Regions from separate parts of the Homo sapiens genome. Here region 1 is linked to region 2. The links come from fine-mapping of genetic effects on gene expression. A gene starts in region 2. The other region holds a variant in brackets. All regions are shown on one strand. Distances are between the middles of the regions. Region 1 overlaps COX5A (cytochrome c oxidase subunit 5A). Region 2 holds the start of ULK3 (unc-51 like kinase 3).

Region 1 (8,328 bases), 89 kb after region 2:
ATAGCTATAATGTGAAAGAACCATAACTTCAATGTACACAAATAGTACTTGATATATTTTGTTCAATGCATTAAATTTTGAGTTGACTATATATGTTGTGGCAGCAAAAATATTGAACAGGTCAAATGAAATACATCGTATACATTGATACAGAAAGATATATTTTAAATTAAGCAAATAAAATCAAGTAGAACAAAAAGTATTACATAGGCATGTTTATACTTTTCTCCCTAATGTATAATACTCGCTTGAAATTATTAACAGTGGTTCCCTCTGATTTTAAATTAACAGTGATTATCATGGGACGTAAAAACTACTTTATATACTTCCATATTGTTTGAATTTTTACACATAACCAGAGTATTAATTCCTAAGTAAAAATGTCCCAGGTGGGCATAGTGGGGCACACACCTGTAGTGCCAGCTACTCAGAGGCTGAGGCAGGAAGATTACCCGAGCCCAGGAGTTCAAGGTCGTAGGGTGCTAACAATATGACAGAACCTGATAAGATAGCCATTGCATTCCAGCCTGGGCAACACAGCGACACCCCACTTCTAAAAACTAAGAATAGGCCAGGCGCAGTGGCTCACGCCTGTAATCCCAGCACTTTGGGAGGCCGAGGCAGGCGGATCACGAGGTCAGGAGATCAAGACCATCCTGGCTAACACGGTGAAACCCCGTCTCTACTAAAAATACAAAAAATTAGCCAGGTGTGGTGGCGGGCGGCTGTAGTCCCAGCTACTCGGGAGGCTGAGGCAGGAGAATGGCGTGAACCTGGACGGCGGAGGTTGCAGTGAGCTGAGATCACACCACTGCACTCCAGCCTGGGCGACAGAGCAAGACTCCAACTCAAAAAACAAACAAACAAACAAAAACAAAAACAAAAACAAAAACTAAAAAACTAAGACTAGGCCGGGCGCAGTGGCTCACGCCTGTAATCCCAGCACTTTGGGAGGCTGAGGCGGGTGGATCAAGAGGTCAAGAGATCAAGGCCATCCTGGCCAACATGGTGAAACCCCATCTCTACTAAAAGTATAAAAATTAGCTGGGTGTGGTGGCGCGTGCCTGTAGTCCCAGCAACTCGGGAGGATGAAGCAGGGGAATTGCTTGAACCCAGGAGGCGGAGGTTGCAGTGAGCCAAGATTGTGCCACTGCACTCCAGCCTGGCGACAGAGCGAGACTCCGCCTCAAAAAAAAAAAAAAAGACAATAAACAACAACAACAAAAAAAACCAAAAAAGCAACAAAAAAAAAAAACTAAGAGCAATACTAATGTCCATTCAAGTTCTTTTTTTTGAGACAGGCTCTCGCTCTGTTGTTGCCTAGGCTGGAGTGTAGTGGCGCAATCACAGCTCACTGCAGCCTCAAATTCTTTGGGCTCAAGCATTCCTTCCTCCCTTGGCTCCCAAAGTGCTGGGATTACAGGTGTGAGCCACCAGCCCTGGCACCATTCAAGTTCTTAAATAAACTTATATACTTCATTCACACATTAAAAAAAAAAAAATCTCGGGCCGGGCTTGGTGGCTCACGCCTGTAATCCCAGCACTTTGGGAGGCCGAGATGGGCAGATCACCAGGTCAGGATATCGAAACCATCCTGGCTAACACGGTGAAACCCCGTCTCTACTAAAAATACAAAAAATTAGCCAGGTGTGGTGGCGGGCGCCTGTGGTCCCACCTAGTTGGGAGGCTGAGGCAGGAGAATGGCGTGAACCCAGGAGGCGGAGCTTGCAGTGAGCAGAGATCACGCCACTGCACTCCAGCCTGGGCAACAGAGCGAGACTCTGTCTCAAAAAAAAAAAAAAAAAAAAAAAAAAAAAATTCTCATGTTATTATATTCCAAAATAAATTACACATCCTGACAAATTACACATACAAATTGCTTTATCAAACTACAGCCCCTTCCCAAAATATTCTGATAAATCCCCTAAGGGAACGTACACTCTAATCTACACCTAATGCAAAATAATACTGTTTTACTAGGAATATTTTGGGCTGGGCGCAGTGGCTCACACCTGTAATGCCAGCACTTTGGGAGGCTGAGACTGGTGGATCACCTGAGTTCAGGAGTTTGTGACCAGCCTGATCAACATTGTGAAACTCCGTCTCTACTAAAAATACAAAAATTAGCTGGGCGTGATGACGGGCGCCTGTAATCTCAGCTACGCGAGAGACTGAGGCAGGAGAATCACTCGAACCCAGGAGGCGGAGGTTGAGGTGAGGTGAGATGATGCCATTGTACTCCAGCCTGGGCGACACAGCAAGACTCTGTCTCAAAGAAAAAAAGAAATGATGTTTACATAGAGTACTGTATGAAAAGCATTTCCATTTTTTTTTTTTTTTTTTGAGATCGAGTCTCACTCTGTCACCCAGGCTGAAATGCAGTGGAACAATCTCAGCTCACTGCAACCTCTGCCTCCTGGATTCAAGTGATTCTCCTGCCTCAGCCTTCTGAGTAGCTGAGACTACAGGCGAGCGCCACTAAGCTTGGCTAAGTTTTGTATTTTGAGTAGAGACGGGATTTCACCACATTGCCCAGGCTGGTCTCGAACTCCTGACCTCCAGTGATCTGCCCACCTCAGCCTCCCAAAGTGCTGGGATTACAGACGCGAGCCACTGCACCCAGCCCCATTTTTTCTTTCTTCTTGTCAAATGGACACTGAATTGAGTTTGGAAATCTGAATTCCTTCTGAACAGCCTCTGGAACAGGTAGGGGGATAGGCGGAGGCAGAAAATTTTATCTTTGGGTATTGAATGCAGCACAACCTAGCACTCAGATACCTCTAGGCTCTTCGCTCTCTCTGTTTGACCCTGGAAAATTAACTTAAGTTTATTTTCCTTATCTGTAAAATGGGGACGCTACCCCCCTTAGCAGATTATGAAGATTAAATGTGAAAACAGGTAGGTTAACACTATGCACTGGTAAGTATTAAACAAATGGTAGCTATAAACTAACCCTTATCTAAAAACGTCTTAGTTGTCTATTTATAGAAATCATAACTTAAAGAAATGAAACCTATCTCAAATCACATTTCCTACTACCTGTATTAGATAAGTGTGGTGTAACTTCCAGTTGTTTAAGGCTTAACATATTTTTATTTATTTACTTTTAGAGATGGGGGTCTTGATATGTTGCCCAGGGTGGTCTTAAACTCCTAGCCTCAAGCAATCCTACCACTCCCAAAATACTAGAATTACAGGTGTGAGCCACCATGCCCAGCCTTAACATACATATATATATATTTTTAAAAACTTCACCCAGAAACCTCTCAACATTGTTGTTCTAAGAACACTGAAATTTAAACATTAGTAATATCCTATATATCTTTAATGCAGTAACTGGCAGGAGGAAGAGTAGCAAAAAAACGAAGCAGAAAAGATCTTCCCAGAGACCTAAATTACCTACATAATCCAAGCCCAGAATGAAGTGGAACATGTACATAAATGGACTAGAAGTGAACACGTTTTAATTTCTTTTTTTTTTTTTTTGAGACAGAGTCTCACCCTGTCGCCCAGGCTGGAGTGCAATGGCACGATTTCGGCTCACTGCAACCTCCACCTCCCGGGTTCAAGTGATTCTCCTGCCTTAGCCTCCCAAGTAGCTGGGATTACAGGCATG[C/T]GCCACCATGTCAGGCTAATTTTTTGTATCTTTAGTAGACACAAAGTTTCACCATGTTAGTCAGGCTGGTCTCGAACTCTTGACCTCATGATCTGCCTGCCTCGGCCTCCCAAAGTGCTGGGATAACAGGCATGAGCCACGGTGCCCAGCCTTAATTTCTACAACAAGAAAAAAATGGATCTCTACACCTAAATATGTCTGGTAAGTATGAACATTTAATCAAAACTACGTGGATATTTAATAAGTCTTACAAGACTAATATTCAAATTTAATATATCAGAAAACAAGGCCAGGTGCGGTGGCTCACACCTGTAATCCCAGCACTTTGGGAGGCTGAGGCAGGCAGATCACTTGAGGCCAGGAGTTCAAGACCAGCCTGGCCAACATGGTGAAACCCTGTCTCTACTAAAATACAAAAAATTAGCCAGGCGTGGTGGCACACCCCTGTAGTCCCAGCTACTTGGAATGCTGAAGGAGGAGAATAGCTTGAACCCAGGGAGGTTGCAGTGAGCCAAGATCGTGCCACTGCATTCCAGCCTGGGCGACAGAGCAAGACTCCGTCTCAAAAAAAAAAATATCTATCTATCTATCTATCTATCTATCTATCTATCTATCTATCTATGTAAAAACATAGATTAGAACAACCATCTAATGCACTATTATCAAGAACTTAGGGCCAGATGCAGTGGCACTAGCCTCGGAGACAGAGTGAGACCCTGTCTCAAAAAAGAAAAAATTATAAGCCACCTCTTCAAAAACTAAAGCTAGCCTTAACTGAATACTGAAAGTGCAAGTATAAAATGATACAATCACTTTGGAAGACGGTTTAAGCAGTTTCTTATCAAGTTAAACACAAACCTACCATATAACACAGTAATTCCACTCCTAAGTATTTACCCAATGAAAGGTCTATGTACTCCTTCCCCAGAGGTAATTACCTGTCCCATCCACAACAGTGCTTCATGATAAGCAATTCGTTTTGTTCACTGCTGGGCATGGATTTGACTACATGAGTGCTAGGCTTTGTTTCCTAACTGTGAATAAGATGACCACCAACAGCAAATCCAAGTCAAGGAGATCACCACCTTCAAGGATTTGATCATATGTCTTCTGGAAGCCAAATTACAAACTGGTTGTATTCCAAAAAGTCTTTTATAAAACAGAACTAGAACTTTGAGAGGCCAAGGCAGGATCGCTTGATGCCAGGACTGAGAGACCAGCTTGGGCAACAAAGACAGACCTCCATTCTCCACAAAAAACTTAAAAAATTAGCGGGGTTTGGTGGTCCCAGCTACTCAGGAGGCTGAGGCGGGAGGATCCCTTGAGCCCAGGGCAACAAGGCTGCAGTGAGCTATGACTGCGCCACTGCACTCTAGCCTAGGTGATAGAGCAACACTCTATATCAAACAAATTAAAATAAATAAAAATTTAAAAACCCATACATCCCTTTCTGAAGGGCTAAAACAGACTCTCCCCACGTGATTTAAATTTTTTTTTTTTTTTTGAGATGGAGTCTCACTCTGTCGCCCAGGCGGGAGTGCAGTGGCGCAATCTCAGCTCACTGCAAGCTCCGCCTCCCAGGTTCACGCCATTCTCCTATCTCAGCCTTCCCAGCAGCTGGGACTACAGGCACTCGCCACCACGCCCGGCTAATTTTTTTGTATTTTTAGTAGAGACGGGGTTTCACCGCGTTAGCCAGGATGGTCTCGATCTCCTGACATTGTGATCCGCCCGCCTCAGCCTACCAAAGTGCTGGGATTACAGGCGTGAGCCACCATGCCCGGCCATGATTTAAATTATATTGTTAAATCCAATAATGGGTAAAGCAGGATCTATTCTATTAGCTATGGACACATCCCCCACATGCTTAACTTTTTTTAGGTAAACTCTACTAGCATTCTCTGCCCCACACACCCCACCCCACTTAAGAACAGGATCTCCACCTAGTATTGAAGCTTGAAAGGCAAATTATTTTGGAAAACAATTACTCAGAGCTTTTACGTAACCTGAAAGTCCCAAAGTAAGAAAAAAGAAGCAGCTGTGAAAAATGAGGACATTTTTAGGGCTTCATCCTAAAAAGCTATTTCTAACACTGCTTTTTGGCATTCAGTTAAGCACTCCATTTAAAAACAAAAAAGGCTAACATATATAGAAAAATAAAAGGGCTCATTGATCCTTTGGGTTTAAATTTAGTTAAATCGGATAGTTTTCCATTTAATAAATAATCAACCCTGACAGGCCCAAAGAATGAACACTTTGGTGGTGGTAACTGTAGGAATGAGGGCACATTAACGAGTTACTGAGGCTGGGTGCAGTGGCTCTCGCTTGTAATCCCAGCACTTTGGGAGGCTGAGGTGGAAGGATGGCTTGAGCCCAGGAGGTTAAGGCTGCAGTGAGCTGTGCCAACTGCACTGCAGCCTGCATGACAGAGCGAGACCCTGTCTCAAAAACAAAAACAAAAACAAAACAAAACCACAACAACAGAAGAAGAAAAAGAAAAATTTGGCTGGGCATGGTGGCTCACACCTGTAATCCCAGCACTTTGGAAGGTGGGAGGAGGGAGGCACTCCTGAGCCCAGGAGTCCCCAGACCAGCCTGTTTCTACGGAAAATAAAACTGGTGGCGCACCCTTGTGGTCCCAGCTACTTGGAAGGTGGAGGCAGGAGGATCAGTTGAGTCCCAGGAGGTCAAGGCTGCAGTGAGCTGTGATGGTGCCACTGCACTCCAGCCTAGGCAACACAGTGAGACTATCACCAAAAAAAAAAAATAAATAAATAAATAAATAAAAAATTTTTTTTTTGAGATGGCATGATTTCGGCTCACTGCAAACCTCTGCCTCCCGGGTTCAAGCAATTCTAATGCCTCAGCCTCCCAAGAAGCTGGGACCACGTGTGCGTGCCACCACACCCGGCTAATTTTTGTATTTTTAGTAGATACTGGGTTTCGCCATGTTCAGGCTGGTCTGGAACTTCTGATCTCAGGTAATCTACCCGCCACAACCTCCCAAAGTGCTGGGATTACAGGCGTGAGCCACCGTGTCCGGCTGAAAAATGTAAATTGTACTGTTACTTTAGCAAAACACAAAATCTAAACAAACATCAGGATGGCCCAAACATAACTATAAGAAACAAAAATGGTTCCACCATTAAAAAGGAGTCAGTTTCGGCCAGGTGTGGTGTCTCACGCCTGTAATCCCAGCACTTTGGGAGGCTGAGGCAGACGGATCACCTGACCTCACGAGCTCGAAACCAGCATGGCCAACATGGTGAAACCCCATCTCTACTAAAAACACAAAAAGTAGCCGGGCATGGTGGCAGGTGCCTGTAACCCCAGCTACTCCGGAGGCTGAGGCAGGAGAATCGCTTGAGCCAAGACCGTGCTATTGCACTCCAGCCTGGGCAACAAGAACGAAACTCTGTCTCAAGAAAAAACAAAACAAAACAAAACAAAACAAAAACAAACAAACAAACAAAAAAAAACAAGGAGTCAGTTTCCCAAGATGGACTTTGGTTTCCTTTTCTATAAAATAAAATGGCTTCCACGATCTCTAAAGTACACTCTAGGTTGGCTGCAGTGGCTCATGCCTATAATCCCAAACTTTGGGAGGCTGAGGTGGGAGGATCACCTGAGCCCAGGAGTTCAAGCCCAGCCTGGGCAACATAGGGACACTCCGTCTCTAATTTAAAAATAAATAAATAAACAAAAATAAAGTACCCTCCAGCCTTATGGTTCTACGACAAATGATAAAAGTCTAAAATGAATGAAGCAAAACATATTCTTTTTTTTTTTTTTTTTTTTTTGAGACGGAGTCTCGCTCTGTCGGCCAGGCTGGAGTGCAATGGCGCGATTTCGGCTCACTGCAACCTCCGCCTCTCAGGTTCAAGCGATTCTTGTGCTTCAGCCTCCCGAGTAGCTGGGATTACAGGCGCCCACCACCACACCCAGCTAAATTTTTTGTATTTTTAGTACAGACAGGGTTTCACCATGTTGGCCAGGCTGGTCTTGAACTCCTGACCTCAGGTGATCCGCCCGCCTCGGCCTACCAAAGTGCTGGGATTACAGGCATGAGCCACCGCGCCCGGCTGAGTTCTTTTTTTAATTTTTAACTTCAGCATACCCTGAAACGAGTTTCTGAGTTCTTATGTTTAAATACGCATGCATAGTTGCCAGTGATGCAGGTTCAAAAATAAAATATAATATGCATGCATAGAAGCTAAATTTCACGGACCAAGATCGAAGTGCAATTACTGTAATTATTCTATGGTGGTGGACTCAAAACCTCCCAGCACACATATAAAGGGAAGGAAAATAGACAAAAATCAGAAGCACGTCTCATACTCCAGCAATCAGGCTTCTATTACAAAGGGGAAAAAACACGAAGCGTTCCTATGCTTGTAAAACCCAGTATTCCTGTGTCTGTGACATTCAGTTTTCAAAAGAGTGATATTTTTATCATAAGCCCTATCAAAACTCTGGCTATCTTCCGGAGATCAGGAAACAACCACACACTTCCATCTATTTTAAACGTGGAAGAATTAGAACGTGGCACAGCAGACCCTAAAAATGATGGAAAAGGCTGTGAAGGTGACACACTAATCGCTAACCGAGAAATGCCTGATTGAAAAGTATAATCGTGTGTCCCATACGGAAGTATATTGTGTCCTCGGACCCCAAGCGGCGTGCCCGGAGGCTCAATGTCACCTTCGCCGAGG
Region 2 (8,328 bases):
GAGGAGGAACAGGATGGGTCAGGATGATGGAGCCAGCGGGGAGCGAGGCCTCCATCCCTGGGCTCCCGGTGCACCCTCGCTGGAGCCCTGAGCTGAGCTAGAATCGTGTTTCTGGGTCCTTATTTCCCTCCCTGGACTATGCTCCTAGGAAGGCTGGGCCTGGCTCTGCTTTGCATTCTCCCCACAAGGGCCTGCAAAATGGGCACTGTGCTGCCAGCTGTGGGCTGACCTGAGGCCCTGGGACAGCCTGGCACCTCGACTTCCAGCCTAGAACCTGCCCCTCCACCACAAAGGCAGCCTGGAGCCCATACTCCAGTCTCTGCAGGTCAGAACGAGGTCTAAACCCTCAGGGCCCTGACTCCCTCTGCCCCCCAGTGGTCGCTAAGGCCCTGCTAGACACACCTCGATGACCCGGTTGCTACGGATCTTCTCTTCCAGCTCCGAGAACGACCTGGAGGCAAAGGGGGGCTGCCCGAAGAGGGCTTCTGTGGAAGGGAGGCAGAGCGGAGGCTGGGAGGGAATGGGTCAAGCCTGGCCTGACGCCCCTCAGCAGGGGCCCTGGGCCAGCAGTCAGTTTTCATCAGAACCCTTCAGAAGTGGCCCAGAGAGGCCTTGCCTGAGGAAACTGTAGGCCTCAGGGTGAGAAGCAGGGAAAAGAGGTCTCACCATACAGGATGACCCCCATGGACCAGAGGTCCACGCGGGCGTCATACTGCCGCTGGCACACCATCTCGGGGGCCATGTAGAGGGGGGAGCCACGGAGCACGTGCTTCTCATCCCACGGGGACATGTGTTGTGCGAAACCAAAGTCTGCAGGCAAGAGGAGAGGCAGCAGGGCTTGAATTCCAGCTGCTTCAGCTCCTGACTTGTAAAGCCTCACCCCAGGCTCCTCTCCACCCTCCAGACCCGCCAGGATCAACCCTATTTCCAAGCCTCTGCTCATCATTAGGCTGGAACACCCTCCTATATCTGCCTCTGGGGTATAAAACCTACCCATCCTTCCCAGCTCCCTTGGGCACCTTTTCCTAGGAAGCCCACCTGATCACACCAGCTACCTGCATAAGCCCCCACCCTCTCACTGTCCCCCCAGGCTTAGGTTCTATCACAGTCTCTGGCCTCCAGTGTCAATTATCCAAATCTTATCAAGGGTCACCACCTCCTACTCCCCCACCACACCCCTCCTATGTGGCCACAGATGGAGTCACAGACTTGAGCCCCAATTCTGATGACAGACCAAGTCCTGTCCCTGCCCACAGAGGGATCCCTGATGCTTGTCACACGCTGAACCCTGGCACTGTTCCCAGATTGACCCCTAAACCTGGACACACAGTGAGTCCCAACTCTGGCCACAGACTGAGCCCTAACTCCACCCATTATGCTGCTGGACTTGAGCATGGGTAGCCTGAGAAAGCTTCCACCTTTTGATGACAGGGCCCAACCCCAGACTTCACGGCCTGTCACTCTTTGAGGACTCTATAGAGGGCTCCATAAGAACCAGGGCTGCTGAGTGAGCCCAGGCAGAGGGAGGCCTCTGCACTCTCCAAACCTCATCCCTGCTGTTTCAGACACAGACCTGCCAGTTTTAGGTGGGGCTTCTCCAAGGAGCTCAGTAGAATGTTCTGTGGCTTCAGATCCAGGTGAGAGATATTCCGTTCATGCAGGAATTGCAGGGCGCTAGCTGAGGAGCAGGACCCACGAAGAGAGACAGTTCAGAGCCCATTCCCGCCTGCCTCTCGCCTCCCCGGCTCACATCTGCCTCCTCAAGCCTGCACAACCCCAGTTCCTGCCTGGCTGGTCTAATGTTTTCCATATAAGCACCAAGATCACACCACTTCTAGGAGTTTGCCACCCCACCCGAGTGCCCACCCTCCTTCCCTCTGCCCCTTCACAAGTCTCCCCACCTCTCAGAAGCTTCTCTGGATGCCCCAGCCCTTGAGATCCTGCTCTTTTCCTTGGCACAGCACTTGAGTCCTACCTACAGGACTCTGGAATGTTCTACAAGGTCCTTATATTATGTTCTATGTATGGAAGCCTGAACACCCCACAGAGGGGTTACCCCCTCATCTCTCCCACAGCGTCCTTGAGCAAGGGTTGAGTGTATGAGATAAACAGGACCATAAAATTTCAGGCTGTGCAGGAGGCAGCTGCAATGCGTGCCAAGGCTCTAAGCCTGGGGGAGGGGTGGGATGGTGGGGGGCAGAGAACAAGGGACAGAGTGTCAGGCTGGTGTCACAGGCCTTTACCTAATTGCTGCATGAAGACACGCGCCACCTTCTCAGGCAGAATCCTGCGGGTATGGATGAAGCGAGACAGGTCGCCCCCTGCGCAAAACTCCATGATGAGGTAGATATTGTCACTGTCCCACTGTGTTTAGAGGCAGAGAGGCGGCCTGAAGAGAGTGTCCCTTCTCCAGCTCCCTTTGGCAGCGGCCCCGCCCCAGGCTCACACCTGAAAGTCTTTCAGCTGCACAATGTGGGGATGTCGAATGCCCTTGAGGATCTCAATCTCCGTGAGGAGGTTCTCCACCGATGCCTTGTTCAGACTTTTCTTGGCTACACACTTTATGGCTACCACTTCACGAGTGTCCTTCTGCGAGACAGGAGATTTGGGGACTCTGCCTTGAGGGGGCCAGGACCCTTGTCTGACTGGAAAGGCTCTATCTGGTTCCCTCTGTTCCCCCACCCCGCCCCTCCCCGGGTCTACCTACTGCACACCAGCACCGGGCTTCCCAGCTTTCCCTTGTGAGGCCAGTGAGGAATGCTGATTCTGGAATCCTGGCTTCCCGACACAGCCTCAGCCTGGTCTTCTCCAACCCTCGGCTAGCTGATCCATTTCTTTGCATTCTGGAGTGCTCCCGGCAGAGGCATGTCACTCAGGGTTCTAGAACCGCCCACTCTGCCTCCCAACTGGCTCCAGTCCCAGACTCCTCCCAGCCCACCAGGTAACCTGTTTTGAGCCTGTTCTTCAGCCACTGACCCTGCAGGTGGGTGCAGGTGCGCTCTTTAAGACCTAAGCGTGGCAGTCGGCTCCAACCTCCGCCGAGGGTCAGCTGGGGCGAGGCCGGCCTCCCGCCCCTAACTATTCCCACACTGTCGCTAACCTCTCAGAGTCTCCCCGGCCGGCACCAGCCGAGCTAGCTCGGGCGGGCACGGGGCCATCGGCCGGCACCCACCTTGGCGTAGGCCTTGTACACCGTGGCGTACGTGCCGCTGCCCAGGCGCTCGGTGAGGATGAAGCCGTCCAGGCGCGGGGGACCCCAGCCGGGCCCCGCCATTCCGGCCGCCTGCGCCCGCGCGGGCGCTTCCTCGCTGCGGGCGGCGGTTCCGGCGGGTTGCGGGGCGGGCCGAGCACTGGGTGGCTCCACGCTGCCCCCAGCGCCGCCCGCCGGAAATGCAGCGCGCATCGGGGACGCGGATCCGCCCGGCTCCCGGCGCCCCTCCCCTGTCTCTGGGCCTCGCCGGGTCACGCGCCCCGCCAGTTCCTGCAGGGCCCACGTGGGGATACGGAGGCCCCGCGAGCCTAGAAGTTAACAACGGAGGACGGCCGGCGTGGTCTCCGGGGACTCCTAGCGGGCGCAGAGGCGTCTAGAGATCGCCCACGTGAGGGCGCGGGCGGCGGAGCGGGCGTGTGTGGGGGCGACGGCGTCCGGGAGGCTCCCAGGGCCCCTCCCCAGGACCCGCAGCTCTGAAAGGAGAGCTACTGGCACGAGAAGGCGCCTTTGGAAGAGGCCGCGTTGGCTTCCCAGGCCTCCCAGCTGCTTTTCACTTTTCTGAGGAAGGGCCTTGACCTATTTATTGCATCTTAACTGTCCCCGCTCTCCAATCTTAGCAGCGGCGCCCAGCCCCTAATCCTGTGGGCTGCCCCGTCCTCCCAAGTCCACCAGACATGTGGACCCGTGTTGTCTGAAAATGTTTTTATTTTTACTTAAGCACAAAAATTGAGACGTAACATATACATTTGTACATAGAGGGGAAAAAATACCAGAAAGGAGTTCATAAAACCCCAGCCGCTGCCAGTATCATTCAGTGGCTGGGGCCTGCGGCTGTCTCGGGCCCAGAGCCGGAGGCTAGTTTTGTGGGAAGGCACCCCAGTCCACACACCCACTCGGCAGCCTCGAGGGACAGGGTGCTGGTTTTAAGGGTGGACTCCTACGTGTCCCATCACAGTGACACACCCCCCAGGGTGTGAACCAGACTCCACTGGGTATTAGGGGGCCCTCCGAGAGATGGCTTATCAGTCCCTGCTGAGGGATGCGGTTCTGGACTGGCTGGCCCTGCCCTTCCTGAAAGTCTGGATGCTGCTGATGGGGAGCATGGGCGGGGCAGGTGGCATCTGAGGCAGAGACAAAGGCAGCCGTCCCTCGGTTCGGGGAGGGGGGGGGGTAGTCACAGCAAACAGGGCCAAACCAACCACACCAGGACAGGCAGACCCCACCCTCCTAGAAGACGCTGGACGCTAGGCAGGACAGCTTGGGGTCAGTGTCCTTGGTCCCTTCCAGTCCCCAAATCCCAACCAACGGCATTGTACATTCAGAAAGTCTGAAGAGAGTAAGGCTCAGCAAGGGGAGGGCTCCAGAGGGCTCAAAGTGCCATCCCCTGCAGGAGGGTGCAGGGGGATAAAGGGCTATTAATCCGTTTCTCAGGAACACGAGGCAGGGAAGAGCTTAAGGCAACCAGCCTTCTCTGGATCCGTTTATGAGGCAGAGAAGAGCTTGAGGCAACCAGCCTTCTCTGGAAGCCTGGAGACCACTGGAGTGACCTGGGGAACAGATCTGTCCACCAGAACCTGTGAGAGGCTTATTCCCAGCCCAGGCAGGAAGGACTGGGCTGTGTCTAAGAAGCCAGATTCAGGCCAGGCCTGCAGGGTGGGGGAGTCAAGGCCCAGGACCCTGGCAGAAAGCTCCAGCTGGGATGGGCCCAGGTCAGCCTGTGATCCCAACTGTGTGGGGGTGTCTGTGTGTGCACAGGACGAAGAGAACTTCAGTCCCACTGCTTCCAGAGACAAAAGAATCCTACCAAACCATCACCAGAGAAGGAAAGAGAGCTTTGTTTTTTTTTGTACATAGAGGGGGAAAAAATTCCCTGTCCCTCCCGTTCCAGGGAGAGCTGGTCGCTGAGGGAGGAGGAAGAGCCACGGCAAGAACCCTGCCAGGTCTGTGCTGGGCACAACCACCACCACATAAGGCACCCACGGAAAGTGCAGCTCAGAAGGCAGGCGAGAGAAAGGCTGAGGGGGAGAGAAGAGAGGAGGACTAATTCCCCTGGAAGGCTCCTTGGGCAGCAGATGAAGCAGCTCTGTGGAAGGTTCTGCTGCTGAAGATGCCCTGGGAAAACTCCTCCTGGGCCTGCTGGAAGCTGGCCCCTGTCCGTCGGTAGAGGGAGTGCACCTGGCGAAGAGGGGTGGGGTGAGAGAAGCCTGTCCTTTGGGCCCACCAGGAAGCCAGCCATCCAGGTTATACTCCCAAAGGGGTCACCAGAAGCCTGGCACTGCCTGACCCCCCACCCAGATCCCTGGAGAAAGGTACTGGACCTTTGGGGGCCTAGGATGCCCAACTGCAGTGGTGAAAAACATCTCGTGGCAAGGGCAGGAAACGGTTGCCTGCCTCCTCCCATTTGCTGTCAGCCCTGCCCACACCACTCACCCGCTGCAGGAGGAAGACTGAGAGCACGGCACAGAGGGTGAAGAAGCCAGCCACCACCATCATGATGACTGATATGGCCAGGGAATGATTATCCAGTGTAGACAGGGCTGCAATCCAACCGCTATAAAGGGAAGAAGAGGCCAGAGGGAGCAAAGTGGGAGTGGGCTCCAAAAGTCAGCATAAGGGGCTCTTCTCCAAGTGGCTGCTGTGTCCTGACCATCACCTTGGCATCTCCCCACAGCACAGGGAGCCCTGTGAGCCAGAAGCCCTTGGCCTGTGAGGCCAGACCTCCGTGAAGGCTGACAGGCCCACACTACCCCATTCACAAGGGGAATCTTCTGGTTATGTGAGGTCTGAAAGGGAGGATGTGGTTGCTGCCTTCACAGAGTCAGAAGTAGCACCGGGCTGGGTGCTATGGCTCTCACCTGTAATCCCAGCACTTTGGGAGGCTGAGGCAGGAGGATCGCTTGAGCCCAAGAGTTCAAGACCAACCTGGGCAACAGAGGGAGGCCCTGTCTCCATAAAAAATAAAAAAAGGCCAGGTTCGTGCCTGTAATCCCAGCACTTTGGGAGGCCAAGGAAGGCAGATCACTTGAGGTCAGGAGTTTGAGACCAGCCTGGCCAACATGGAGAAACCTTGCTCTACTAAAAATACAAAAATTAGCTGCGCGTGGTTGCACACGCCTGCAATCCCAGCTACTCGGGAGACTGAGGCAGGAGAATCACTTGAACCTGGAAGGTGCAGGCTGCAGTGAGCCGAGATCATGCCATTGTACTCCAGCCTAGGTGACAGGGCGAGACTCCAACTCAAAAAAAAAAAAAATTAGCTGGCTGTGGTCATACATGCCTATGCTCCCAGCTACTTGGGATGCTGAGGTAGGAGGATCACTTGAGCCCGTGAGGTTCAAGGCTGCAGTGAGCTGTGATCACGCCACGGCACTCCAGCCTGAGCAACAGAGTGAGACCCTGTCTCCAAAAAAAAAAAAAAAAGAAAAGAAAAAAGAAAAAGGGCTGGGCACAGTGGCTCAAGCCCGTAATCCCAACACTTTGGGAGGCCAAGATGGGCGGATCACGAGGTCAGCAGATCGAGACCATCCTGGCTAACACAGTGAAACCCCATCTCTACTAAAAATACAAAAAATGAGCCAGGCATGGTGGCAGGCACCTACATAGTCCCAGTTACTCGGGAGGCTGAGGCAGGAGAATGGCGTGAACCTGGGAGGCGGAGCTTGCAGTGAGCAGAGATCGCGGCACTGCACTCCAGTCTGGGCAACAGAGACTCCATCTCAAAAAATAATTAATTAAAAAGGTAGCACTGGGCCGGGCCTTTTTCTGCTGCTTTGGGGGTGGGGAGTATGGAAAGCGTGGCTGCTCACTCCTGAGGACCCACCTTCTGTGAAGGAGGATCACTGGCCAACTTGCTGTCACCTGTCTGAGCCCCATGTCCTCATCTGTAAAAGGGATATCCTCATATTTCTTGACATCAAAACTTACTACAAAGCTACAGTCACTAAAATAGTGTAGGACTGGCATAAACATAGACATATAGATCAATAGATCAATGGAATAGAACTGAGATTCCAGAAATAAACCCATACACCTATTGTCAGTTAATTTTTTTTTTTTTTTTTTTTTTTGAGATTGAGTCTTGCTCTGTAGCCCAGGCTGGAGAACAGTGGTGTGATCCCGGCTCACTGCAACCTCCACCTCCCGGGTTCAAGTGATTCTTCTGCCTCAGCCTCCCAAGTAGCTGGGATTATAGGCACCTACCAATGCGCCTGGCCAATTTTTGTACTCTCTAGAAACAAGGTTTTGCCATGTTGGCCAGGCTGGTCTCAAACTCCTTCCTGACCTCAGGTGATCCACCCGCCTTGGCCTCCCAAAGTGCTGGGATTACAGGCATGAGCCACCGCACCCAGCCAACTCAAGCCTTCTGATTCCCAGTACAGGTGCAAACGGCAGTCATGAATCACAGCTTTTCTACCAGGGTCTTACTTAGGTAAGGAGTAATGAAATTGGGTCACTGGTCAAAAGGGACCAGATTAACAACAGCAGGGCAAGAAGCATGAGGGGTGGTGGGAGGGCAGCGTGCACTTGTTTGGAGGGCAAGGGGAGGCAACCTTTCTCTCCCCACTGCTCTGGACTTGCCAGCTCTGCCAGAGGGAGGGGACCAAAATAGCACCGCCCTTCCAGGCTCAGGCTGTCAGCCAAGTGCCAGTCTGACCTTTCTGCAATGCTCCCTGTGCACTGGGGCAGAAAGGAAAACATCAGCCATCAGCTTTTCTTTTGAGATTAATTTTGAGCTGAGGACTGAGGTACCCTGGAAACTCAAACCAGCCGTATGCTCAAAGAGGGCAGCCAGAAGAAGCCTGTCCAGGGGAGGTGAGGGAACCGTCTCCTTAAGTTACAAGGCATCTGGAAAAAGTTGCAGCTCAGAGTCTGCAAAGGCCTGGGCATCCATCAGCTTTCAGGAGGGTGTGGCAGGAGAAAAGGAAGAGGCTGCAATCCAGTGCAGGACACTGTCATGGTAGCCTAAAGAGTCAAGCCAAGTTCACCCACAATACCCTGGAAAGTGGAGAGCAAGGGAAGATAGTGTCTTTTTTTTTTTTTTTTGATACAGGATCTCACTCTGTCACCCAGGCTGGTGTCCAGTGGTGCAATCATGGCTCACTGCAGCCTCAACCTCC

What was found. PIP is the estimated chance that this variant, and not a neighbour inherited with it, causes the effect.
Region 1: its variant is fine-mapped to the expression of ULK3 in whole blood (TOPMed, PIP 0.98).

What each region holds. Positions count from the first base shown.
Region 1 is chr15:74,929,229-74,937,556 of GRCh38, forward strand. It overlaps COX5A (cytochrome c oxidase subunit 5A), which reads right to left. Exons shown (of 5, transcript NM_004255.4): 2 at 1-4. Among named protein-coding and RNA genes, the nearest start is that of COX5A, 4.7 kb to the right of the region's middle. The variant C/T (reference allele first, on the strand shown) is at 3,617.
Region 2 is chr15:74,839,832-74,848,159 of GRCh38, forward strand. It overlaps ULK3 (unc-51 like kinase 3), which reads right to left and starts at 3,325. Exons shown (of 16, transcript NM_001099436.4): 1 at 3,173-3,325; 2 at 2,449-2,589; 3 at 2,244-2,364; 4 at 1,574-1,678; 5 at 667-810; 6 at 403-485. The coding sequence starts at 3,274. It overlaps SCAMP2 (secretory carrier membrane protein 2), which reads right to left. Exons shown (of 9, transcript NM_005697.5): 8 at 5,642-5,762; 9 at 3,899-5,386. The coding sequence ends at 5,252. MIR6882 (microRNA 6882) reads right to left here and starts at 876; the gene lies at 811-876. RefSeq lists enhancers at 2,319-2,844, 2,913-3,824 and a silencer at 3,087-3,806.